Homo sapiens: one gene and its partner. Changing the gene in region 2 together with the main gene of any one other region gives a genetic interaction. Each region holds a gene or a part of one and is shown on either strand. Other genes may lie near its edges.

Region 1 (5,475 bases), on a different chromosome or scaffold from region 2:
CATCCCAAAATGCTGGGATTACAGGCGTGTGACACTGTACTGGGTTTTAATTTTGTTTTTTAACTGTAGTTTTATAAAATGTAATACATCTGGCAGGGCAAAGTTCTAATTTTTAAATTTAAAAAAATCCCTCAGTTCACTATCAAAGGGCAAAGCTCTCTTTCATACCCCTTTTTCCCCCTTGTTTTCTGGTGACTGTCACATATTTATTCTTAATAAGAATGCTAGAATAATTTTGTCAAGTTTCAAAAACAATCTATGCAAGTCTTTTATGTCCTTCAGTAAATTTTTTTCCTAGAGGTTCTATATATTCCTTGTTAAGGTTATTTCTTAATTTGTTGTTAGTGTGAAATGGATATTTTCTCCCATAAGATTTTTCTAACAGTTGCTAAAGTGTATTCAACACTTTCACTTTACTTTCAAAAGTCTTACTAGTTTATATATGAAGACTATTCATTTACATATGGATTTTGAAATTTCTATTTGCTAAATTTTCTGTTTCCAACCTTTTCAGTTAATTTCCCCCAATTATCTGCAGAAAAGTATTCTTGCTTTTTTTTTTTTTTTTTTTTTTTTTGAGACGGTCTTGCTCTGTTGACCAGGCTAGAGTGCAGTGGTGCAATCACAATTTACTGCAGCCTCTACCTCCTGGGCTCATGGGATACCCCCATCTCAGCCATCCAAGTGGTTGGGTCTACAGGCATGTGCTACCATGCCTGGCTAATTTTTGTACTTTTTGTAGAGATGGGGTTTCACCATGATTCCCAGGCTAGTCTCAAAATCCTGGACTCAAGCGATCCACCTGCCCTGGCCTCCCAAAGTTCTAGGATTACAGGTATGAGCCAACACGCCTGCCATCTTGCTTCTTTATTGTCAATATTTTTACTGCTTTTGTTTATCTAACTACATTGGCTAATTTCAAAAAATATTAAGTAACACTAGAACAGTAAGCCCCTTTGTCCAGTGTGTAAATTTAAAAAGGAATTTGTTTTATAGGCTTCAGGCTTGAGACACAAATATGAATTTAAAAAAAAATTACACTAGAAGAAATACCTATTGAAAGTCTTAAAAAAAATCAAGATGGGTTCTCTACCAAATAATCTTTCCTTTGATCTAATGGAATAATGAATGAAATTTAAAGATCTCCCTAACTTTGAACAATTCTTGCTTTCTTAGAATGAATTCCCACTTCTTGGTCATGTTGTTCTCAAAGAAGTAATTTGATTTCACTTACTTTTTCCCCCAAGTAATTTTTGCATCAATATACATGAATAAGACTGAGTTGCAGTTTTTTGTTTTTATTTTTCAGGTTGTGAAATCAAGATTATCTTGGCTTTGCAAAACAAACTGGAAATTTCTTGTTCTCCCTGCTCTGAAACAGCTTCAACAGTATAATAATCATAGGTCCCTTAAAGAAAAAGTCACCTATGGAACTGTCTGACCTCAGTACTCTTTGGGGTCAGTTCTATGATACTTTAAAAAATTTCTTCATGTTGTTGTACATTCTGTATTATATCTCTTCTTGATTCCATTTTGGTAATTTGTAATATCCTAGACAATTAGCCATTTTATTTAGGTTTTCAAATTTATTAGCAGAAATATACAGTCTTTACATTTCTTCCACATTTATTTATTTATTTATTTTTTGAGACAGAGTTTCGCTCTTGTTGCCCAGGCTGGACTGCAATAGCACGATCTCGGCTCACTGCAACCTCTGCCTCCTGGGTTCAAGCGATTCTCCTGCCTCAGCCTCCCGTTGGGATTACAGGCACCCACCACCTCACCCAGCTAATTTTTTGTATTTTTAGTAGAGACAGGGTTTCACCACGTTGGCCAGGCTGGTCTCGAACTCCTGACCTCAGGTAATCCACCCATCTTGGCCTCCCAAAGTGCTGGGATTACAGGTGTGAGCCACCGCGCCTGGCCTTCTTCCACATTTTGTGTCGAAGTTTAACCCCTTTCTTTTCCCATTATTAGATAGTTGGCAGTTTATCTAATTGGACTTGTCAAATAATTAGCTCTTAGATTTACTTTAAAAAAATTTTTTGTTTTTTTGAGACAGAGACTCACTCTGTTGCCCAGGCTGGAGTAGAGTGGCGTGGTCTCAGCTCACTGCAGCCTCCGCCTCCCAGGTTCACGCCATTCTCCTGCCTCAGCCTCCTGGGTAGCTGGAATTACAGGCACGCGCCACCACACCCAGCTAATTTTTGTATTTTTAGTAGAGATGAGGTTTCACCATGTTGGTCAGGCTGGTCTCGAACTCCTGATCTCGTGATCTGCCCGCCTTGGCCTCCCAAAATGCTGGGATTACAGGCGTGAACCAATGCACTTGGCCTGATTTACTTTTAAATTATAATGTACAGTTTTGAAAGTGTAAATTTCTTTCTGTTATAGTTTCCTTCTTCCTGTTTGGCTAAGGTTTTGTGTTGTTGCTCTTTTTCTAAGTTTGAATACTTTATTCATTTATTTTCTGGAATAGGTGTTTTGAGATGTAAAATTTTTTCTGTGTGGCTATTATCTGCATACCTTTTCCAAGTTAAAATTGTCTTCAGCTCGACTGTCCTCTGAGTTGTCTGTATTCTTCTCATCATCACCTTTATCTGCATTTGCAAATACAGAGGCCACGCGAACCACAGGCAGAGGCACATCCCGAGGGACAAACCTGACTGAGCTGATGGGCATGGTCCACAGTTTAATTTTCTTAAAAGATTTGGTTTTGGCAGAATACCGTGATTCACAGACAAAAACATCCTCATCTCGGAAGTTTTCTGGGCATAACTTAAAGTATTCCTGGGGGGTGGGGAGGGCATAAGAATAAAACTAGTTAGGTGAATTTTCTGAAAATCAATCAAAAAAAAAAAAAAAAAAAGCAAATAACCAACCAACCAAACAAAAGCTGAACTGATTACAGACTTTCTGGCAGTTAACAAAAAATAATAAATGACCAGAGATTTAGAAGTATTTCTTTGGCTACGGAATGGACTTATTATATACACACCCTTTAAATTATAAAAACAAATAATTCCATTTAGCTTACAATTGCTCTTTGAAAACATATGAACATTTCATATAGCTATAATGTTCCTTAAAGCTTTGAAGAGGGCTTGTGTGTGTGTATCAGACAGACACACAAAAGCACACATTATTACCTAAAAAACAAACTGAAAATTTGTAATGATTATCCTTAAAAAAACATCATACTTAAAAATTAGCCTGGCAATATTAAAAACTTAACCTAACTGCATTATAGCCAAATAGTGTAAGCAGCAAGTGGTCTTTCACAACGAAGTTCAGGTTAATTTCTTCCCAAATCTTTTCATATAGCTATATAGACACGGCTTAAAAAATAGCTTAAAACAGAGTTCCTAATTTTGTAAACATCGATTATTTTCTGTGTTTTAAAATTTTATTCCTAGGGAATGAGTGAGACTTTGGGATTTAATGAGTTTCTTACCTTGACAAACATGACCACACACTTGCCTAGAATTTTACTAACTGGAACTTTGTTGTAATAGTCACTCTTAAAAACTTCTTTTTCTAGAAATTTTCGTGTAGCCAGGTGGAATGTTTCATTTGGTCGGTAAAACCAACAGCCATACAACCATTTTTCACCTCAAAAATGGGGGGTGGGGGAAGGGGAAGAGAAAGAGAATCATTGTTAACAGAAATCACTTTTTTTTTTTTTTTTTTTTAAAGAGACTGGGTCTCACTACGTTGCCCAGGCTGGACTTGAATTCCTGGGCCAAAGTGGTCCTCCAACCTCAGCCTCCTGAGTAGCTGGGACTACAAGTATAAGTCACTGTGTCCAGCTCAGAAATCACACATTCTTTGCAAAATTAGGAAATACACCATCAATCCACTCTGCCATGACATGAACCTAGCACTGTGCTTATTTTTACAGCTACAGTTTAATATAATTATCCACAGGAGAAATAATACTCAAAAATAATAAAGTGTAATGAGGCCTAAAAAATGCATGCTACTTTTCCCCCCTCATATATATATATATACACCCTCAACCTCTTGGGCTCAAGTGATCCTCCTGCCTCAGCCTCTCAAGTTGCTGGGACCACAGCAAGTGCAATCACACCCTGCTGATTTTCTTATTTTTTCTAGAGAAGGGGTCTTGCCATGTTGCCCAGGCTCTTCTTCATATTAAAAGCCATATAAAGTACATAATGAGGAGGACAGGTGATGAGACCTGCTCCACTCTGCTCTGGTTAGTACATACCTAGAGTTGTGCACTTTAGTAAGGGGACAGATATGCTACTGAAGGACATATTTAGCTCTCTGGTGAAGGAATACAAAAGTATTTCATGTGATAGGCAGCTCAAAGAACTGGATTGCCTGGATCACATTTCCACCAACTTCTGGCTTCATTAATTTCTATGCATACTCCATGTCTCAATTTAAAGGCAACTGTTCTAGAAAGCCTTTTTGAAAACAAATGCTAAGCCAAGGCATGTCATTCTATAATAATTTCTTTTTTGATCATAATCTTCCTTACTGGAGTAGTTTTGCAAGGGAAAATATGAGCTTTTTGTTCTTCTGAATCTATGTCACTCTACATAAAGTTTGGCTCAAAGTATGTTTTTAATAAGTATCAAATGAATGAATGAATCTCAACCAGACTTTAAGAAGCTGTATTTCTTTCTTTTTTTTTTTTTTTTTTTTTGAGACAGTCTCACTCTGTCACCCAGGCTGGAGTGCAGTGGCGTGATCTCGGCTCCCTTGCAAGCTCCGCCTCCTGGGTTCACGCCATTCTCCTGCCTCAGCCTCCCGAGTAGCTGGGACTACAGGCGCCCGCCACCAGGCCCAGCTCATTTTTTGTATCTTTTTAGTAGAGACAGGGTTTCACTGTGTTAGCCAGGATGGTCTCGATTTCCTGACCTTGTGATCTGCCCGCCTCAGCCTCCCAAAGTGCTGGGATTACAGGCGTGAGCCACCGCGCCCGACCTAGAAGCTGTATTTCTTTTGACTCAACTGTGACACTTGCCCAATAGGTCCTATGTTTTTCATATGATGGGTGCTTACTTACATTTATTGACATATTGAACAATTATTATGGAAAGGCTTAAGATGTCTGAGTTAAAATTTTCTTCCCTGAGGAGCAAGGAGAAGTCAAACAGTCATATCTCACTAAACTGTCCTTTGATTTAAAACAAACTTACCAGCTGAATCCTCCCACAGTCTTTCAATACAGACGATATGTGGTTGTAGGTTGGCCTCTGCAGGTTCCACATAGACGTAATCTCCAACATGGTACATGCTGTTTTTAAAGCTACAGTCCTGGCTGTATGTGCGATGTAAGCCTGAGAGGCCTGCAGCACCAGAGGAATCTTCACTCTTTTCAGCTTCTTAGGTAAAAAAATAAATAAATAAAGGAAAAAGGTACTCACCAAAGGGATGCTGAAGTCAGATGTAGGGTTCAAACAACACATACTAATAATACATTTAATACATTTAATTCCATTT
Region 2 (4,381 bases):
AAAGGAATGGGGTCTCACTATGTTGCCCAGGCTGGAGCGCAGTAACTATTCACAGGCGCAATCATGGCAAACCATAGCCCCGACCTCTTGGGCTCACGTGATGCTCCCACCCCAGCCTCCTGAGTAGCTGGATTAGGGGCACACGCCACAGCTCCTGGCTCTATGGTACCTTACTTTTGAAGGGAGAAAGTTTTATATATGCTGCATAACTGTAATAACGTAGAGTGTGGAAGGAAATGTCTAAGCTATCAACGGGATGAGTTTGGAGGAGCTTCCACTTTTACTTTCCCCCTTTCTCCTTTTTTGCATTGCTTTTTTGTTTTGTGGAGACAGGGTCTCACTCTGTTGCTCACACTGGAGTGCAGCGGTGTGATCTCGGTCACCGCAACCTCCACCTCCCAGGCTCAAGTGATTCTCCTGCCTCAGCCTCCCAAGTAGCTGGGATTACAGGCACGCACACCCACTGCCCAGCTAATTTTTGTATTTTTAGTAGAGACGGGGTTTCACCACGTTGGCCAGGCTGGTCTTGAACTCCTCACCTCAAATGATCCTCCCGCCTCAGCCTCCCAAAGTGCTGGGATTACAGGCGTGAGCCACCACGCCCGGCTGTGCAGTGAGCATGCCAGCCAAGGCAGCAGTGCTGTGGAGTTGATGTTTGCAGTGAGAGGCCCCACGAGGTCATTTGTGGAACTAACTGGATTCACAACTGACCAGGGTCATTGCTCTGTGCTGGAGGAATCTCAAACCTGGCCTCACCGACGTATCCAAAGACTTACCAAGATTTGGTTTTCAGTAATTCTGGTACTGAAAACTATAGAAACTGGGAAGATACAGAACACTAACACTAACTGAGTGTTCAGAATAAGTGCCAGGCATTCTCATACCAGATGAATGAAGTAGGCACAATTATGGATCCCATCTTACAGATGGGCGAATGGAGCAGCAAAGAGGTGAAGGAACTTGTCCAAGGTTGTCTAGCTGGTGAGTGGCAAAGCTGGGAACAAGCTGCAGGCCCTGCTGATGTCAGTTCCACGGCTCATCACCTCCTTCCAGCTAGGGTACCCCCACCCCCGCTCAGCTCTGAAGCCCTGTCCATCTCTCCAAGGACAAGGACTCCTGGCACCTTCACATTCCCCTGCGGCAAGTAAAGGAACAGGTTCTTTTTTTTTTGTTAATAAAGTAGAATAACATTTATTTCTTAAAATTTTTATTATACATGCTGTATTCATGGAAAACCAAGATCTTTAAAGGAACTCAAATTAGATATAAATTATGTTCAGCTCTGAGCTGGTTATAAATCATGTTTAGCATGGAAACAGTTAAACTGAAGCTTTCTTCTCCTTATAGGTTGCCATCATTTTCTTGATCTCTGCAATAGCTTTCCCTGGATTCAGACCCTTGAAAAAAGAGAAAAGAATCAATAACAAATGATAACTGAAACTGAAAGGGAAAACCCACAATCTTGGGTGAAACTCCTTCCTCAGCTGGTTCAGTGTCCAAGCAAGGTGAATGCAAATCAAGTCCCTCAAAACCATAGGGGTTGGGCTAAGGGCTCTCTTCTGTCTACCTTTTTTAACATTTGAAGATGGTCAGCTCCCTCTGGCAAGAGCTCTGCCACGTTGAATTCCTTCTTGTGTGGCTCACTCTAACAGGTAAACAGGCCCAGGGCAGAGGTGCACTCTCTGACTGCTCAAAGACACTCAGGGTAGTGTCTCTTCTAGGACTACAGGCCAATGTCAAAATCAGCCAGACATCTCTAAATCTTTTACATCATCATTATTAAATAGGCAGCAGCAGAAATCAGCATATACCAGCTCTCAAAAGTATGTGGAAGAAACTACCCTCTCTATTAACCCTTTGTAAAACCATGATGATTTCAACTGGCCAATACCATTGGTATTAGCTGCAGTTTGCCCCTACAGCTGTTAACATCTGCTTTGCAGGAGGCACAATAATTAAACCCACTGAATGCCAGCTTCATTGAAGTAGAAAGTAGGAAGTACTTTACCAAGTACTTGCTTTTACCAAGCAAGTACTTGGTAAAATGAGACAAGTACTCATCTGACGTTAGTGAAGGTTCCCCTCATTTTAGAAGGATAAGTCTACCCCCCTAAAAAAGTGTTGTGGAAAGAAAGAAGAAAAGGAAAGAAAGAAAAGAGATCTTGAGAGAAGAAGAGAAAGAAAAAATATATATTTTTTTGACAGGGTCTTGCTCTGTCATCCAGGCTGAAGTGTGATCATAGTTCACTGTGGCCTGGAACACCTGGCTCAAGTGATCCTCCGGCCTCAGCCTCTCAAGTAACTGAAACTACAGGTGCGTGCCACCACACCTGGCTAATTAAAAAAAATTTTGTTTGTAGAGATGGGATCTCACTATGTTGTCCAGGCTGGTCAAAAAGACACTCTTCATATACCAACATGGGATAATCTCCAAAATATAGTGGGTGAAAAAATACAGATAAATGTGATATAAGAAAGACAGAAGAGGACACATATGCATTTGTGTGCAGCATAAAACACCTCTGAAGTTCACACAAGAATCTGACTTCTAGGGAGGTGGCTGGGTGGAGTGGGAGGGAGAATTTTCACTGTATATCCTTCTGAATCTGGATCTACCTGTGTATTTCCGGTCCCCACAGGGTCAGTAAGGGTGTTTAGACTTAGAAGGTTGGTACATACCCAATCCATGCAGGAAGAAAGAGCACTGGATGGGGAGGCAGACGGCCTAACTCTAGTCCTACCTTCCCACTGACCTGACAGTGATCTGGGGCGAGTCACTCCCCTCCCCACCTGGGGCTCAATTTCCCCATCTGTATAAGGGGATTAAACTTGATGGTTTTCAAGTCCCTTCCAGTTTCATGATCGGCCTATGTCTATGTCTCAGTCCCAACTTCCAGCCCTGTTTTACAGAAGGGAGGGCAAGGCACAGAGAACCTGTTCTTGGCTGTCTCAGTTGTCTGCTGCACCCATCCCCTCCATGCACAGGTTTGTGACCAGGAATGCACCTTAGAGTCACTCGCAGAGCTTCTGAAGAAACACACAGCCAGGCCCCACCACTGAAGATGCTATCTCTGTCTCAAACAAGCCCAGTACTCATGTTTTTTTAAAAAATAACATAAGGTGACATTTATTGGGTGCTTACTATGTGCCAGGCACTGTTCCAAGCACTTTTATAGCATAACTTGCCTCAGAGGTCAGTAGCTATTCACAGGCACAATCATGGTAAACCACAGTCCTGGGGACAGGACCCAGATGGAAGCCCAGGCAATAGGGAGCTGAAGCCTGTGGGCTCCCCCAGCGAGGCCACTGGAAACACAGAGGGTTTCCAGGCAAAAAATAAGTGAATTCTACAGCTTGGATTTCATGTTTTCAAACACACAGTGTGATCTTTTTTTACGGCTAACTGGCCACCCTACAGTTTTCCACCTTGCCGCCCACTGACTCACTGCAACTTTTGAGTGAAATCACCCACAGTCTTTGCTCGGAGGGCAGCCGTGTTCTGAACCACACAGCCCTAGCCCTTCCCTGCCCACTGGGCAAGGCTGACTGGACCAGGGCTGACACCTGCTATGGTTTGAATGTGTCCCCAAAAGCTCATGTGTTGAAAACCTAATCCCCAATGCAACAGTATTGAGAGGTGGGACCTTTAAGAAGTGATTAGATTATGAAGGCTCTGCCCTCACAAATGGATTGCCATTATCATAGGAGTAAGTTCCTGATAAAAGGATGAGTTTGGATTAGTCAGGTGTGGTGGTGTGTGCCTGTAGTCCCAGCTACTCAGGAGGTAGGAGGATCACTTAAGGCCAGCAGTTCCAGGCTGCAGTGAGCTATGATTGCGCCACTGCACCCCAGCCTGGGCAACACAGTGAGACCCTGTCTTTTAAAAAAAACAGATGAGAGGGGCCGGTCGCGGTGGCTCACGCCTGTAATCCCAGCACTTTGGGAGGCCAAGGTGGGTGGATCACCTGAGGTCGGGAGTTCGAGACCAGCCTGACCAACATAGAGAAACCCTATCTCTACTAAAAATACAAAATTAGCCAGGCATGAGTGGTGCCTGCCTGTAATCCCAGCTACTCGGGAGGCGAATGCAGGAGAATCACTTGAACCTGGGAGGCGGAGGTTGTGGTGAGCTGAGATCGATCGTGCCATTGCACTCCAGCCTGGGCAACAAGAGCGAAACTCTGTCTCCAAAAAAAAAAAAGGCTGAGCTTGGGCTCCCTTTCTCTTGCCCTTCTGCCTTTTGCCATGGGGTAATACAGCACGAAGGTTCTTGTTAGATGCTGGCGCCAGCCTCTAGAGCTGTGCGTCAAATAAACTTCTTTATAAAATTACCCAGTCTGAAATTCTGTGATAGTACCACAAAACAGACTGAGACAGAACC

The links. Genes that interact genetically often act in the same process or in processes that back each other up.
Region 1: changes in SDHB (region 2) and PBRM1 together harm fitness more than expected from each alone (negative genetic interaction), as found in Homo sapiens cells (one large-scale study listed by BioGRID).

The regions. Positions count from the first base shown.
Region 1 is NC_000003.12:52,583,899-52,589,373, forward strand, and holds part of PBRM1 (protein polybromo-1), read right to left. Parts: intron 5,358-5,475; coding exon 5,172-5,357; intron 3,613-5,171; coding exon 3,455-3,612; intron 2,791-3,454; coding exon 2,527-2,790; coding exon of another isoform or gene 2,515-2,526; exon of another isoform or gene 1,283-2,514; intron 1-1,282. UniProt on the Homo sapiens protein: Involved in transcriptional activation and repression of select genes by chromatin remodeling (alteration of DNA-nucleosome topology). Required for the stability of the SWI/SNF chromatin remodeling complex SWI/SNF-B (PBAF).
Region 2 is NC_000001.11:17,017,562-17,021,942, forward strand, and holds the end of SDHB (succinate dehydrogenase [ubiquinone] iron-sulfur subunit, mitochondrial isoform 1 precursor), read right to left. Parts: intron 1,398-4,381; coding exon 1,320-1,397; 3' UTR 1,161-1,319; downstream 1-1,160. UniProt on the Homo sapiens protein: Iron-sulfur protein (IP) subunit of the succinate dehydrogenase complex (mitochondrial respiratory chain complex II), responsible for transferring electrons from succinate to ubiquinone (coenzyme Q).